Regions from separate parts of the Homo sapiens genome. Here region 2 is linked to region 1. Evidence: fine-mapped expression QTL. A gene starts in region 1. The other region holds a variant in brackets. All regions are shown on one strand. Distances are from middle to middle.

Region 1 (5,384 bases):
GTCTCAAAAAAAAAAAAAAAAAAAAGATATTAAGCAGAGTTTTTGTGGATTTAACCATCCCTGCTGGCTTCCTGGAAACATTTAATTATTAATATCACACCTGAATGGTAAACTTTTGCACTAAGTTCCAAAGCTTGGGCAGCTACACTTTCATTAAACCCTACACAAGAAACGAACTGCATGTTTGAAAGAGAGGCTGTGAGCCGGGCGCCGTGGCTCACACCTGTAATCCCAGCACTTTGGGAGGCCAAGGCGGGTGAATCACGAGGTCAGGAGTTCAAGAGCAGCCTGGCCAACATGGTGAAACCCCGTCTCTACTAAAAAAAATAAAAAATGAGTCAGGCGCAGTGGCAGGCGCCTGTAATCCCAGCTACTTAGGAGGCTGAGGCCGGAGAATCGCTTGAACCCGGGAGGCGGAGGTTGCAGTGAGCCGAGATCGCACCACTGCACTCCAGCCTGGGTGACAGAGTAAGACTCTCTCTGAAAAATAAAAAAAAAAAAAAAAGAAAGAAAGAAAGAGAGGCTGTGTACATATTTTGATTCTAAAATACAGTAAAGAGTATTCTAAACCAGTTGTAGAAATGGCCTTAGAACTGTATCTCACAAAACAAGGGACTGTCTGTAAGGATTTTCCTCAACTTATATAACACACTGAAGTGGTTTCCAAAGCATAATCAAGGCTTTGGACTTACAGACTTTAACTAATTCTTACAAATCTCAGCAACTTTTAAATTCTCTAAGATCCATCAAGTATGCCACCAAAAGGGGGAAAAAAGCTATGTGATTAACAAAGAGGGCTCCTTCGTAGGCTTTACAGATCATTCATGTATGACTCTGTGTCAGTTCCTTTTCTATAAAAAGTACATAATACCTGTCCTGCCTTCTGACCTGGTTGTTGTGAGGATCAAATGGAAATAGTGTAAATGTGAACATCATGAAAAAACAAATTACCATCGAGTAATTATTATGTACTATACAGCCTTAAATACATCTCAACAACTTATGTGGTAGATACTATTATTATCCCCATTTATACAGGATCAGTCAGAGGTTTTGATAGGTTAACTAACTTGCCCAAGGTCCCCCAGCTCAGAAGAAGTGGTGTCAGAATGCAAACCTAGCCTTTGACTATAAGATTTGTGTTCTCTTTTTCTGTTGTTGTTTGAGTTGGAGTTTCACTCTTGTCACCCAGGCTGGAGCACAATGGTGAGATCTTGGCTCACTGCAACCTCTGCCTCCTGGGTTCAAGCGATTCTCCTGCCTCAGCTTCCCGAGTAGCTGAGATTACCCGCCACCATGCCCAGCTAATTTATTTATTTTTAGTAGAGATGGGGTTTCACCATGTTGGCCAGGCTGGGCTCGAACTCCTGTCCTCAGGTGATCCACCCGCCTCAGCCTCCCAAAGTGCTGGGATTACAGGCGTAAGCCACTGCACCCGGTCATGAGTTGTGTTCTTAATCACTAAGCCACAGTGCTTAAATGACGCAATAGGCTAAATTGTTACTAGCATTATTAGAGATAGCATAGTGTAGCTGAGTGCCTAGGAGTTGGTTCCTAAAGCAACCTCAAGTTTCTAAAGTTTGAATTCCATCTCCAATACTTACTAGTCTAAGGCTAGTTACTTAACTCCCTAAATCTCAGCTTCTTTATTGGGAAAAAATGAGAATTCGGTTCAGACTAGGGTTGTTGTTAGGATTAGATGAGACAATACATGTAATACACATGATATATACGAGCACGTATTTGGCATATAGTAGGTACTCAATAACTATTCATACAGCTACTGGAAACAATCTTAATTCTAGTCAAGTTATCAGACCCTTAATATTTTTTAAGCTGACTCCGTACTACATCTTTAAAATTTATGCTGCTAAAGGTAACTCAAAAAAGTTATGACCTTCGATTTTTAATTGCAAATTTGTCAAAATCACCTGAATTTCAGGCCAAATCTAAATGGCAAGCTGGACAAACGGCTCCTTCCAGTCCTGCTTATCAAAAGAAATACGATCACTGGACCATCCGATACAAAGCTGTGCTGCAAGAATTACAGTGTAGAAACATCTTTCGGTTGCCTTCCTAATTTATAAGTCATATTATAAATTACTTACATGCCTTTCAAATTCATAAGCCGTATCTCTTTTACCGCCCAACTGTGGACAGCCCCAGACAGACCCAGCTCACCGAGTGCTGGCCAGGCGCCCCTTGCTTGAACGTGGTGGACAGTGAGATGGGGGGCACTACAGCCCTGGAGGTCCATTGCTCTGGATCCTGGCCCACATGGATCGCCTGCGTGGCGAAATGTTGGAAGTGTGGCAGGAAACCTTGTGAGGAGGCGTCTTTTTCCTGCATGCTGAACCGCGAAAGAAGAAGAGAGGAAAAGAACACCGAAGATATAACCAGTCGAAGCCGGGTGTCCGGGGTTGGGAGAGACAGAAGGATCAGGCGAGAAGGAGCTAAAGCACGCAGGTAGAGCCGACGGCGAGCGCACTAAAGCGGCACACAGCGATTGTTGGGGTGGATTTTATTAGCGGGTCTGCAGTCTCACGATCACAGTGGGGCGGGACCAGCGCGGCCCATTGAGCGCAGGCCCGACGCGTCTCCCGCTCCTTATTGGCTGACAGCAGAGGCGTTGCCTGAAACGTCACCGCGACCGCCCCACCCAGTGCACAAAGCGGAGTGAAGCTGGAGTCCCTGGGTCCAAGTGGTGTTAGTCCCTGCGGGCGAAATTCCTGAGTACCCGTCCTGAGGAGGCTGCCATGCTGGCTCCTGAGAGCCACCCGGGCGTCTCTGTGACCTCAGGCCGGAGGTTCGCCCGAGACGTGGCGGAAAGCTGGCTTAGTGTTGAAACCGGGTAACTGTAAACAGACCACATAAATAGCCTTCTTTTACTGTGGTAGTTACCTCTGACCACCATCCTTTGCCCTGAGGGCGGTGCTAAAAGACGTAAGCCACAACGTGGAGGGTGGTTAAGAAAACAGTTGCCCAAGCCGCCCAGTTTGCAGCTTGGATTCTCATCAGTCACAGCTTGCGTTTTAGGTACACTGAACTCTGTAATGACCCAGTGCTTACGATGACGAAACGATGACTAGAAGTGAAGGTTAAATTGTTCGTAAGACATAACGAAGCTACTGTAGTGAGGACGTCTATGCACAACTCTGGCAGCTTCCTAAAAGTTAGTCAATCTTGAGCTTTTTCAAGCATCATTATCTTCTTTTAAAGTACAGAGAGAAACTCCCCCTAATGAGAAAGATAATGTGGCTTTGAAATACTTACTGGAGCCTAACATCCTTACACAAAATGCTTTTGCTTTTACACAACAGCAACATCCCTGCAGGAAAAAGGATTGTTTACCACTCACCTGCGCCCAGAGCCCTACTCTCAGAAGAATCACTGCTTTAAAACAAAAATCTCCCTGTTCCCTAAGCAATACAGACTTGACCTACTTACTATTGTGGCTGTTTTCTAGCACCAGGAAATTTGGGGATATTTCTGTTGTTGCAAAATATTCGCTAAAGATCTAAAACTTTATTAAACAAATTAAGAACAAGGAGAATAAGGAATAAACAGCTCTTAAAATTTACAGTTTGAAAGAAAGATATGAAGAGAAAGAATGAGGCAATTTGCTTTTCAAATTAGCTTTAGGGACATTTAACCCATTAAGCACTAGAGGAGTGGTGCTTGAGGGCCTACAAGCTTTTAGAATCCTACCAAACTTTGTATGGCTGGGGGAAAAAATGGATAGACTTCAAAACACTAATGTATATTAATACATATTTAATTAATATTTTTCTTTTAAAAATATAACATCAACTGCAACTCACCTCAATATTTATGTATAACTATAGGTGGGTATTTTTGTGTAATATGATATGGCATTTAGGGGCCAAAAGGGTCTAAAACAGTTCCAATTAGTTTTACCTCCTAATATTTGCTGACAAACCCTGAGTTGCATAAATACAGACATTTTATTTAGTGTACTGTAATAAAGAATCATTCAGAAGACAGCACTAGGCTGGGTGCATTGGCTAACGCCTATTAATCCCAGCACTTTGGGAGGCCGAGGTGGGCGAATCACCTGAAGTCAAGAGTTCGAGACCAGCCTGGCCAGCAGGGTGAAACCCCATCTCTACAAAAAACACAAAACTTAGCTGGGCGTAGTGGTGCACACCTGTAATCCCAGCTCCTTGGGAGCCTGAGACAGGAGAATCGCTTGAACCCAGGAGGCGGAGGTTGCAGTGAGCCGAGATCATGTCACTGCACTACAGCCTGGGCCACAGAGTGAGACTCCATCTCAAAAAAAAAAAAAAAAAAGATAGCACCCAATACAAATGCTATAAATCAGGCCTTTTTTACTCTCTTAAACTGAGAAAACTTTATTGGATGCAGCTTAATATGTATCAAGGATTTAAAATATCCCCTTTCTATGACTCAGCAATTTCTTTTGTAGAAAATTTTACTTGCAGGAATTTATCCTTTAGATATATTCTTAATATGTGTACAGAGATGAGCAAGGATGCTTTTTAAACCTACGTTACTATTTTTAATAGCAAAAGAGTGAAAAATGGCTTAATTATTCATTCTTAAAAGACTGGTTAACTGGTTATGATACTACTCTGTGATGGCTACAGTATGGCCAAGAAGCAGGAAGAGATTGAGATGTGCTGGTATGTCAGAGTCTCGCTCTGTTACCCAGGCTGGAGTGCAGTGGTGCCATTTCGAATCACTGCAACCTCTGCCTCCAGGTTTCAAGAGATTCTTCTGCCTCAGCCTCCCAAGTAGCTGGGACTACAGATGCAGCCACCATGTCTGGCTAATTTTTGTATTTTTAGTAGAGATGGGTTTCACCATGTTGGCCAGGCTGGCCTCGAACTCCTTGCCTCAAGTGATCCACCAGCCTTGGCCTCCCAAAGTGCTGGTATTACAGGCATGAGCCACCACACCTGGCCTATTGATCTCTAATATCTAAGACAGCAAAGCAAAGTAACGTATACATCATGCTTCCACTTTTTCAAAAGAATATATACTATGTTGCATTATTTTCAGACAGATATTTATGATTTCATATGTATAAAAATCCTTCTGGTCATAGAGACTATGGATCTGCAGTGGAAAGGTGATTTTCTTTACATTTTATTCTCTTTTGTGTTCAAGTTTTATATCATGGGCACATATTACCTTTTCAACAATAATAATACTACCAAAAACCCTAATTTAAACATTTTAGAAAGACAACTGTATTTAGAAAAAAAGCTTTTTAAATGATTAAATGATAGCCACTTTAAATCCAATAAATGGTATATAGTTTGAGGTGTGTGCTAATTTTTCATATAAATTATGTTGCATACAACAAAATATCATAACACTTACAGAAGAATTATTAATTC
Region 2 (5,384 bases), 91 kb after region 1:
ATAAAGCATGTGTGTGTATTAAGATGTGGAGAATAAAAGACCTGGTCTCTTCTGTTTAAGAATTCATAATTATTGGGAAGGCCAATAAACAAAATTTTCATGGAAAATTAGTTAAAGGATATTTAACAATCAATTTAAAGGTAAAAGATTGAGGCTCAGATAGTTGAGGTCTGTTCTTAAAGTGATTTTCTTATGTAGAGTGATACCTTAGCCATTCTAAATAATATCCCATTGTCCATTATTATGTAATTATATAACCATAATTGCTCGGTGCTTATATTTTCATTACTTTCCATCACATGAAACAAATACTTAACTGCTAACTTAAAGGATAATTAATTGAATATCTCTTACGGTTTATTAGAAATATTAATATAAATGTATAATGGTGTTAAACATATGTCTGTACTTATTTTTATTTATTTATTTTTTTTGAGACCGAGTTCAAGCGGTTCTCCTGAGTAGCTGGGACTACAGGCACCTGCCACAGTGCCCAACTAATTTTTGTATTTTTAGTAGAGATGGGGTTTCACCATGTTGGCCAGGCTGGTCTCGAATTCCTGACCTCAGGTAATCTACTTGCCTCGGCCTCCCAAAGTGCTGGGATTACAGGCGTGAGCCACCATGCCCGGCTATGTCTGTACTTTGAAATTATCTTAAGCACTGTGATTTAAGTTTTTGATTTTTTGGCTTGTGTTACATTAACATTTTATGTTTTTTGAAAAATCAGAGATAATCTAATATTATTAATTACTGGCAAAAACTTTGTGACCTATTTTTGTGTCCATTTCTTCTGATTTCTGATAATTTTGCTAACATTCTTGTACCACAAAACAGACAATGCAAACTACTTGTCAGAGACTGTTTAGAATCATTTCACTAATTAATAATAAAATTTCAAGATTATGTTGCTTTTCTGCCTTACAGTGGTTACCTGGTAAACAGTGATCAGCCCAGACCAGTATGAGATAGAGATATGGATACAACTAAAAAGCCTTTTTTTCCCACAATTTATCCCTCACCCATGGTTCCTAGCTTTCTCTGATCGAGACAGCTCTGGTTTCTTTATGCACTCTGGGATCTAGTTGTCTTTTGTCTCTCCAGAAGTTGTTCACAGTTTGTGCAGACTTATGTCATGGTATACTTGTGTTATGGTAGTTTTGGGAATTCTGTCGGCCTTTGTCTTATTTTTGTGGCACATCAAAGGTGTTAATGTGGAGGAAGAGACAGCAGTTCATATTGGTTTGCCATCTTACATTGAACTAGAAGTCTTCATTTAGCCTTCAATTTTAAATTTCTTTTTGAGAGAAGGCTTTTCTCAACTTCTAGAGTAGGTTAAGTTCTTCTTCTTGTACATTTTCAAAGTGGTTTAGTCTTTTCCTTTGCAATATGTTGCATACTTCTAATTAATTTTTCAGTATGTGTTCCCTACTCTGTGTATCTTGATAATATAAGCTTTGTGAGACTTCAAGTCATGCATATGTTATCTTATTCACCCCTTTATCTCTGGTACAATATTTGTTTAATGAATTAATGAAGAGATGAATAAAAACTACAAAGAAAATTCGAGACTGTGTATCAAGAATCAAAATTTTTCTTTAAAGTATTATATTAGATGCCAGTAACCCCAGCGCTTTGGGAGGCCAAAGCAGGCAGATTGCTTGAGCCTGGGAAACATAGGGGGACCCCAACACTACAAAAAGTACAAAAATTAGCTGGTGTGGTAGTGTGTGCCTGTAGTCCCAGCTACGCGGGAGCCTGAGGTGGGAGGATTGCTTGACCCTGGGAGGTGGAGGTAGCAGTGAGCTGAGATCACGCCACTGCACTCCAACCTGGGTGACAGAGTGAGACCCTGTCTAAAAAAAAAAAGAAAAAAGTAAAGTATTATAGTAGGACTTTTATTTATCACAACTCTCCTGAGTTTTCAAAACTTTGTTTTTTCTTATAAGAAAATGATGACATTCATCGTAGAAAATTAGGAATTATAGGGAAAAGAAAAGAAAATAATATCACTCAAAGATAACCACTGTTGGGTCAGGTGTGGTGGGGCATGCCTATAATCCCAGCACTTTGGGAGGCCGAGACAGGTGGGTCGCTTGAGCCTGGGAGTTCAAGACCAGCCTAAGCAGCATGGCAAAAACCTGTCTCTACAAAAAAATACAAAAATTAGCCAGGCATGGTGATGTGCGTATGTGGCCCCAGCTACTTGGGAGCTGAGATGGGAGGATCCACTTGAGCCTGGGAGGCTGAGGCTGTGGTGAGCTGACATTGTGCCACTGCACTCCAGCCTGGAGCCTGGGACAAAGTGAGACCCTGTCTCAAGAAAAAAAAAAAGACAACCACTGTTAATATTTTGTTATATTTTAGTTTCGTCTTCTGGTCATATTATTCTCTACATAAAATTCTTTAAAACCTCCTGTTCTGAGGACAAAGACCAAAATTGCTAACTTTGTTTATAAGGTCCAGTATGATACTATCACTTCCTTGTCTCCTTCCTCATCTTGTTCTTTCCATCTGGCTTTCTATGTGTCAGCTCTGCTGGCTTTTTGGTTTCTCATACTCCTCATACTTATATATCCCCCTCTTTTTGTCACAGCTCCTTAAGATTCTTCAGATCTCAGCTCAAGTACAAGGAAGTTTTCTCTGCTCATATATTGTCTCAGAACTCTGCCCATTCCCTTTAGGCAGAGTGTATGAGGCCAGGAATTGTCTATTTGTGTTCTGAATACCTACTAGATGTGTCAGAAACATAGTCAGGATGTGCCATTAACTTTGATATTGAGGAAGTCATCCTACTTAAGGGAGAGAGACCAGTGAATATTCTGTGGCATTCTGAAGTATTTACAAAGTCCTGGGGGAAACAGATGAGTGGAAAAGTTATTCAGGTTCTTAGCAAGGTGTTTGGTTATTAAAGCTGTCTCAAAGGGTTTTAGAAGTTAAAAAGGTGGGTAAAGGCATTCTACTGTGCGAGAGTGGAATGTGTATAAAGCATGGAAATATTAAAAAAAAAAAAA[G/AG]GCATATGCTAGGGAACAATATGTATTTGGTTTCTTTTTTTTTTTGAGATGGAGTTTCCCTCTTGTTGCTCAGGCTGGAATGCAATGGCGCGATCTTGGCTCTCTGCAGCCTCCGCCTCTCAGATTCAAGCAATTCTCCTGCCCCAGTCTCCCGAGTAGCTGAGATTACAGGCACCCGCCACCACACCCAGCTAATTTTTTGTATTTTTAGTAGAGACGGGGTTTCACTATGTTGGCCAGGCTGGTCTTGAACTCCTGACCTCAGGCAATCCACCCGGCTCGGCCTCCCAAAGTGCTGAGATTACAGGTGTGAGCCACCGTGCCCCTGTATTTGGCTTCTTAATGATACATGGCAAAGATGGATGAAGGGGCAAAGACCAGTGTTGGGAAATGAAGTTGTAATGATAAAAGGACCACATTGATATCAGCTTTATGTGCTAGTCAAGATTTTAATCCCAATTTCCAGTCTCTGCAAAACCCCAGAAGACTTCAAAGCAGGGCTTGTTATTATTAGATAAGTGAAAAGACTTTCTAATTAATACAGCGGAGTCAGGGAGGCAAGAGATATTTAGAACAAAACATTTTTGGAACAAATGAGGTAAGCTTGACTTAAAGACATAGTGTTTTTAGAGAAGGAAGGGATAGATCAGAAAGTAATTAAAAGAAAGGTTTAGCCGGGCGTGGTGGCTCATGCCTGCAATCCCAGAACTTTGGGAGGCTGAGGCAGGTGGATCATGATGTCAAGAGATCGAGACCATCCTGGCCAACATGGTGAAACCCTGTTTCTACTAAAAATACAAAAATTAGCTGGGCATGGTGGCGCACACCTGTAGTCCCAGCTACTCTGGAGACTGAGGCAGGAGAATAGCTTGAACCCAAGAGGCAGAGGTTGCAGTGAGCCAAGATTGCGCCGCTGCATTCCAGCCTGGCGACAGAGCGAGACTCCGTCTCAAAAAAAAAAAAAAAAAAAAAACAAAGATTGATTTAACAGAATGGATTATCTCTTGGATATGGGTAATGATAAAATGATTCAGAGTAACTCTAAGGTCTCTATTATGGATTGATGGTGATTTCATTACTTAATTGATATATAGACTATAGGAGCAAGAGCAGTATGGTCTTTAATTTGTGTTAGATTTGTTGGGTTTGAATCAACTGTAGTACATCAGGTAGAATTGTCCAGGTGGGAAGCAGGAAATAGATTGGAGCTTAGAAGGAAGAGGAGTGCAAAAGGTAACAGATTTAAGTAATACTTGGAGCAGTAGGGCATAGTTCCAAAAGCTTTAGGTCAAACTGTAAACTTCAGTCGGAGAAGGAGGAAGGAGAAAGTAAAATTAGTTGTGGTTTATGGACTTTTGCATTTGAGTCTTTGTATGAATTCTTTTATCACCTAAATCCTCTAAAGCTAATTTTAATCTTCATTGTTAATCAGTATTAATAAAATTCTTACAATATGGGAATACAAATACTGATCCCTAAAAAGGATACTGGTAATTGGTAATTTTGTGTAATTGCTTTCTGAATGTGCATCCATAAGAAGTTTGAGTTTATGGTATTTTTCAATATGAAGTCATATAGAAAAGGGAATCTCTTCGCATATGTTATTATACTGTGCTATATACAGTGGTTGCCATTACCTTTTTAATGATGTTTGGTCGTTATTTATTGAATGCCTTCAGCTTTTTAAATGATGTTTGGTCATTATTTACTGAATGCCTTCAGTCAGTTACAATTATATTTAGTTAATAAAATCAGGCTGATAAAAAAATATGTAGCCTCTGCTTTTTATTGAAAGACCCTTTTTATCTAGGAATTGAATTCTTTTCATTCTCTGCATTCAACTGAGGTCCATTTCAATCTGAAGGCAAGGTAGATTGAATAAGATTTATTAAGGTACTTGAGCTTATAGTAGAAAACAATGACCATTAAAAAGAATTGTACTACATTTGAGTAATATAACTTTGACATTAAAGTTAAATTATAATGAACAGGAAGGTTTGTCAGATTCATACTTGAATCTTTAAATGATTATCTAAGTCATTGATTCTCAGACTTTTTGGATTTCACAGACCAGAAAAATTTTTTTTACTGGTGATTGATATAGGGAATCTAACTTTTTCATCTTAGACTATCAGAACTTTATAAAAACGATAACTACTGTCTTTTGTGATCCACATTTTATTTTTAAAAAAAAGATATTTGAAACCAAAAGTAGGAAGAATAGTCTTTAAAAAAATTTATTAAGAAAAAACTCATTCTAGTACACATTTTTTCTCATTTTCTGTATATCATTGGAAACTCAAACAATTGGGCACAGAAATGTAGGTTCGTATTTGGGAATTATTGATTTAGGTCACCGAGCTAGTAAAT

Alleles and levels. Positions count from the first base shown, and alleles are read on the strand shown. Sizes are in standard deviations (SD) of each study's normalised expression.
For the expression in Th2 cells of the gene that starts at base 2,497 in region 1, allele AG in region 2 goes with a lower level than allele G (large effect, 0.87 SD a copy in Schmiedel 2018).

The links. PIP is the estimated chance that this variant, and not a neighbour inherited with it, causes the effect. A credible set is the group of variants that fine-mapping cannot tell apart.
Region 2: its variant is the best candidate, but not a certain one, in a credible set for the expression of CTH in Th2 cells (Schmiedel 2018, PIP 0.65).

The regions. Positions count from the first base shown.
Region 1 is chr1:70,408,381-70,413,764 of GRCh38, reverse strand. It overlaps CTH (cystathionine gamma-lyase), which reads right to left and starts at 2,497. Exons shown (of 12, transcript NM_001902.6): 1 at 2,182-2,497. The coding sequence starts at 2,349. RefSeq lists a silencer at 2,457-2,606 and an enhancer at 2,667-2,926.
Region 2 is chr1:70,317,283-70,322,666 of GRCh38, reverse strand. All of the region lies in intron 3 of ANKRD13C (ankyrin repeat domain 13C), which reads left to right. Among named protein-coding and RNA genes, the nearest start is that of ANKRD13C, 35 kb to the left of the region's middle. The variant G/AG (reference allele first, on the strand shown) is at 3,015.